2 separate regions of the Homo sapiens genome follow, and region 2 is linked to region 1. The links come from fine-mapping of genetic effects on gene expression. A gene starts in region 1. The other region holds a variant in brackets. All regions are shown on one strand. Distances are from middle to middle. Region 1 holds the start of GIMAP5 (GTPase, IMAP family member 5). Region 2 overlaps LOC124901774 (a long non-coding RNA gene).

Region 1 (2,908 bases):
GGTGAAGCAAATGAACAAAATGCACATTCCGATTTGAAAATTGCATGAACCTGATTTTACCATGAGAAGAGCTTATTTTAGCAAATTACAAGAAAGCAGCCTCTTCCATACTATTTTAGAAAAGATCAAACCACTTCTTGTCTTCCTTGTTCATAAGTATCTCCTTCACCCATCTGCCCCAGCCCATGTATTTCCAGGTATTGGAATCATGTGTTTTGCGGTTTGGTGTGCGTCCGGCAGGGTGTCATAGGAAAAATGTGGGGCATCTGGGGGAGCATGGGGTAGTTTTCAGAAGTTGAAAGTCACAAGACAAGGTCCACTCAGGGGTCTTGTTTGGAACATGAGGCTCCTGGGGTGGGAAAATATCCCACATTTGCCCTGGGGAGCCCTAAGAATCCATCCTCAGCTCCCAGGCTTGTCTGAGACATGGTACGTGTCTGGCTGGTCTGGGACAGGAGAAATTAGGAGGGTAAAATTGAGAAGAATGCCCCGGCATGCTAGGGGAGATGGGGGAAAGCCTATCACCCTCTGGGAGCTTCAGTTCTCCCATCTGTCCCACTGATGAGAGGATCAGTTCAGCCTTACTCCCTGAGAGTTTCATGGAGATCGACTTGGCTAAGTAATGGGCAATGGGGCAGCAAAGCCCGCTGTCCTGGGACTGGGCTGTGAGTGCAGGCACAGATTCTTCAGGCTGTGCTCCACCAGCTGTGCACCTGCTGATGCCCGCAACACTCATCACCATTGCCCCGTTTTACTGACCAGCGAACCCAGAAGTGAGGGGATCTGTGCAAGGTCATGTCAGAAATGAACAGCTGTGACCAAACTGTGATCCTTTCAATTCCCAAAGTCTCTGTGAGCATAAACCCAGTTCTCCTTACCAGAAACGGTTGTTGTGCCCTGTCCTCCAGGGTGGCAGTCACTGAGGCTCTGGCCGCTGGTCCTCTCTCAGGAAGGTGAAGTGGCAGCAGAGAGAGTCCTGCTCTGCGTCTGTGTGCGGGGATGCTGTTCACAGGGCTGAGGGAGGTTGAGCAGACGCAGTTAAGGAGGAGCCATGTGCTGGGGCTGAAAGCTCCATGACTCAGCTGCACAAAAAGAAAAGTAGAGATTATGGAGTGTGTCCCCCACACCTCTGCGGACTAGGACACCCTGGTGTTGGCTGGAAACTGATTGGGAACAAGACCCTGAAAACCAGCCGAATGCAGCGATGTGCTGCTTCCTTAACGGGTCACTTCCTGTCATGAGCCTGCCCTGGGACAGTGTGCCCCATCCCATTTCCTTTTTTTTTTTTTTTTGACTGTTTCAAGCAAGCAGTATTTGGAAGAAGGAGATATGAAGGGAATTACAGACTCTCCCACTTCCAAGTTCAGAAAAGGTCCCTAGTGACTGGAAAGTTCTGGGCAGCAGCTGCTGCCCTCAGCACCCATCACCGGGGCACCTTCTCCTCCCAGCACTCTTGGGCCCCTTCTCACAGGCTCTGCTTCTGGAAAGTTTCTGCTAACCAGGATCAGAAAGGCACTCTGGTCCAAAGAGGACCAGAACAAGCCCTTGCAGGGTTTGACTCTGGGCTCGTGACTGACCCTGGTAAGCTGTCTGGCACGTGATGGAGCCCACCCTGTGGGGACATTGTGGAGTCTACGTGTCAGTTTATCTGGTAAGGGTTGAAAGCAGGGTGATAGAACCTCTATTTTTGAATTGATTGCCATTTAAGGCTAGAGCAGTGGACATAAACCTGATTGCCATTTAAGGTTAGGGCAGTGGACATAAACCTGATTGCCATTTAAGGTTAGGGCAGTGGACATAAGGCAATTATGCGATGGAGAACACAGTGGGACTTAGGCGGAGGGCCGTCATGGCCCAGAGAATCCCCATATCCTTTTCTGTTGACATTTGAAGTGGGGCTTACAGTCATATGGTAACAATTGTCTAAGACTTGATGGGAAAACAATTTTAAACAATCTCCTGCTAGCCCAGAAAACCTCTCCACAGAGGCAGAAGAGAAAGAAAACAATTTTATTATTGAATGTCCATTGAACCAGAATGTGATCTGGATCCCAGACAATCCAGGAAGAGATTGCAAAGACGGAGAGGGATGCCACCTGGTTATACAGCCAGGCAGGTGCCACCTATTACACACGTGTTCTCAAGTTAAACCATAACTAATCCTCAAGTAAGAGGACTTGACAGCACCCTTTGACATGCATAGTTCATCCTAAATTCACTCAGTAATCATCTGTGTTGGCTAATTGTCTTTCCAGAGGAAAAGTAAACTTCTCACATCCTCTATGGCAAGAGGAAGATTTGCAACTCAGAAAGGTGCTGGCAGATGTCAGGCTCCTACCTAAGTTAGGCTCCTAAATTAGGCCCCTATTTTCACACAGAGACTGGGAGGTGGGGACGCTACCTTCCTTGATGTTTGCATTTCAAAGGGATGGCTTCCAGATGCTCTACAGACAGCCCTGGGCTGTCAAACAGCTTTTAAAAAGATTTGCATTACAAAGGGTAGAGAAAGATTTCACACTTACAAGGTTTCTAAAGAAAATGCTCTAAGAAGGGAGGGGTAATTCTTTTCCACTTTGTTTTTTCCCCAGAAAAGAGAATTAATGTTTTCTCCTTATTTTTGATTTTTATTCGCCCTTACATTTTTAAATTCTTCAAGGACTTTCAACCTAGTCAGCACTCATAATTTATGTGAATTGAGCAGAGCAGGGCAGAAAGTGGGCTGTAATCTGACCAGGATTTCACCCTTGCTAGATAGGGACCAGGTACTCCCCCAGCACCTGGCTGGAATCTTTCAAAAACTTGACCAACAGAGTTCACATCAAAATCTTATAAACAGTGAGGGGCACCGAAGCTAACCATTCCCATCAATGTAGCAAATTCACTTAATTCTGGCAACATCTTCAAACTC
Region 2 (2,908 bases), 57 kb after region 1:
TGTACCTCTGGTAGAATTCGGCTGTGAATCCATCTGGTCCTGGACTTTTTTTTGGTTGGTAAGCTATTAATTATTGCCTCAATTTCAGAGCCTGTTATTGGTCTATTCAGAGATTCAACTTCTTCCTGGTTTAGTCTTGGGAGAGTGTATGTGTCGAGGAATTTATCCATTTCTTCTAGATTTTCTAGTTTATTTGCGTAGAGGTGTTTGTAGTATTCTCTGATGGTAGTTTGTGTTTCTGTGAGATCGGTGGTGATATCCCCTTTATCATTTTTTATTGCATCTATTTGATTCTTCTCTTTTTTCTTCTTTATTAGTCTTGCTAGTGGTCTATCATTTTCTTGATCTTTTCAAAAAACCAGCTCCTGGATTCATTGATTTTTTTGAAGGGTTTTTTGTGTCTCTATTTCCTTCAGTTCTGCTATGATCTTAGTTATTTCTTGTCTTCTGCTAGCTTTTGAATGTGTTTGCTCTTGCTTCTCTAGTTCTTTTAATTGTGATGTTAGGGTGTCAATTTTAGATCTTTCCTCCTTTCTCTTGTGGGCATTTAGTGCTATAAATTTCCCTCTACACAGTGCTTTGAATGTGTCCCAGAGATTCTGGTATGTTGTGTCTTTGTTCTCATTGGTTTCAAAGAACATCTTTATTTCTGCCTTCATTTTGTTATGTACCCAGTAGTCATTCAGGAGCAGGTTGTTCAGTTTCCATGTATTTGAGCAGTTTTGAGTGAGTTTCTTAATCCTGAGTTCTAGTTTGATTGCACTGTGGTCTGAGAGACAGTTTGTTATAATTTCTGTTCTTTTACATTTGCTGAGGAGGGCTTTACTTCCAACTCTGTGGTCAATTTTGGGATAGGTGTGGTGTGGTGCTGAAAAAAATGTATATTCTGTTGATTTGGGGTGGAAAGTTCTGTATATGTCTATTAGGTCCACTTGGCGCAGAGCTGAGTTCAATTCCTGGATATCCTTGTTAACTTTCTGTTTCATTGTTCTGTCTAATGTTGACAGTGGGGTGTTAAAGTTTCCCATTATTATTGTGTGGGAGTCTAAGTCTCTTTGTAGGTCACTGAGGACTTGCTTTATGAATCTGGGTGCTCCTGTATTGGGTGCATATATATTTAGGATAGTTAGCTCTTCTTGTTGAATTGATCCCTTTACCATTATGTAATAGCCTTCTTTGTCTCTTTTGATCTTTGTTGGCTTAAAGTCTGTTTTATCAGATACTAGGATTGCAACCCCTGCCTTTTTTTGTTTTCCATTTGCTTG[G/C]TAGATCTTCCTCCATCCCTTTATTTGGAGCCTATGTGTGTCTCTGCACGTGAGATGGGTTTCCTGAATACAGCACACTGATGAGTCTTGACTCTATATCCAAATTGCCAGTCTGTGTCTTTTAATTGGAGCATTTAGCCCATTTACATTTAAGGTTAATATTGTTATGTGTGAATTTGATCCTGTCATTATGATGTTAGCTGGTTATTTTGCTCGTTAGTTGATGCAGTTTCTTCCTAGCCTTGATGGTCTTTACAATTTGGCATGTTTTTGCAGTGGTTGGTACTGGTTGTTCCTTTCCATGTTTCAGGCTTCCTTCAGGAGTTCTTTTAGGGCAGGCCTGGTGGTGACAAAATCTCAGCATTTGCTTGTCTGTAAAGTATTTTATTTCTCCTTCACTTATGAAGCTTATTTTGGCTGGATATGAACTTCTGGGTTGAAAATTCTTTTCTTTAATAAAAAATAAATAAATAAATAAATAAATAATTTCACGGTGAATAAAAAAAAAAAAAAAAGAATGTTGAATATTGGCCCCTACTCTCTTCTGGCTTGTAGAGTTTCTGCCGAGAGATCAACTGTTAGTCTGATGGGCCTCCCTTTGTGGGTAACCGGATCTTTCTCTCTGGCTGCCCTTAACATTTTTTCCTTCATTTCAACTTTGGTGAACCTGACAATTATGTGTCTTGGAGTTGCTCTTTTTGAGGGGTATCTTTGTGGCATTCTCTGTATTTCCTGAATTTGAATGTTGGCCTGCCTTGCTAGATTGGGAAGCTCTCCTGGATAATATCCTGCAGAGTGTTTTCCAACTTGGCTCCATTCTCCCCGTCACTTTCAGGTACACCATTCAGATGTAGATGTAGTCTTTTCACATAGTCCCATATTTCTTGGAGGCTTTGTTCATTTCTTTTTATTCTTTTTTCTCTAAACTTCTCTTCTCACTTAATTGCATTCATTTCATCTTCCACCACTGATACCCTTTCTTCCAGTTTATCGAATAGGCCACTGAGGCTTGTGCATTCATCATGTAGTTCTTGTGCCTTGGCTTTCAGCTCCATCAGGTCTTTTAAGGATTTCTCTGCATTGGTTATTCTAGTTAGCCATTCATCTAATTTTTTTTCAAGGTTTTTAACTTCTTTGCCATGGGTTCGAACTTCCTCCTTTAGCTCGGAGTAGTTTGATCATCTGAAGCCTTCTTCTCTCAACTCGTCGAAGTCATTCTCCATCCAGCTTTGTTCCGTCGCTGGTGAGGAGCTGCATTCCTTTGAAGGAGGAGAGGCTCTCTGATTTTTAGAGTTTCCAGTTTTTCTGCTCTGTTTTTTTCCCCATCTTTGTGGTTTTATCTACCTTTGGTCTTTGATGATGGTGACGTACAGATGGGTTTTTGGTGTGGATATCCTTTCTGTTTGTTAGTTTTCCTTCTAACAGTCAGGACCCTCAGCTGCAGGTCTGTTGGAGTTTGCTGGAGGTCCACTCCAGACCCTCTTTGCCTGGGTATCAGCAGCGGTGGCTGCAGAACAGTGGATATTGGTGAACCGCAATTGCTGCTTCCTGATCGTTCCTCTGGATGTTTTGTTGCAGAGGAGTACCCGGCCGTGTAAGATGTCAGTCTGCCCCTCCTGGGGTATGCCTCCCAGTTAGGCTAC

Evidence for each region. PIP is the estimated chance that this variant, and not a neighbour inherited with it, causes the effect. A credible set is the group of variants that fine-mapping cannot tell apart.
Region 2: its variant is the best candidate, but not a certain one, in a credible set for the expression of GIMAP5 in whole blood (TOPMed, PIP 0.83).

The regions. Positions count from the first base shown.
Region 1 is chr7:150,735,679-150,738,586 of GRCh38, reverse strand. It overlaps GIMAP5 (GTPase, IMAP family member 5), which reads right to left and starts at 1,169. Exons shown (of 3, transcript NM_018384.5): 1 at 879-1,169. GIMAP1-GIMAP5 (GIMAP1-GIMAP5 readthrough) reads right to left here. Exons shown (of 5, transcript NM_001303630.2): 3 at 879-1,082. RefSeq lists enhancers at 1,093-1,172, 2,048-2,908.
Region 2 is chr7:150,679,068-150,681,975 of GRCh38, reverse strand. All of the region lies in intron 2 of LOC124901774 (a long non-coding RNA gene), which reads left to right. Among named protein-coding and RNA genes, the nearest start is that of GIMAP2, 5.2 kb to the left of the region's middle. The variant G/C (reference allele first, on the strand shown) is at 1,266.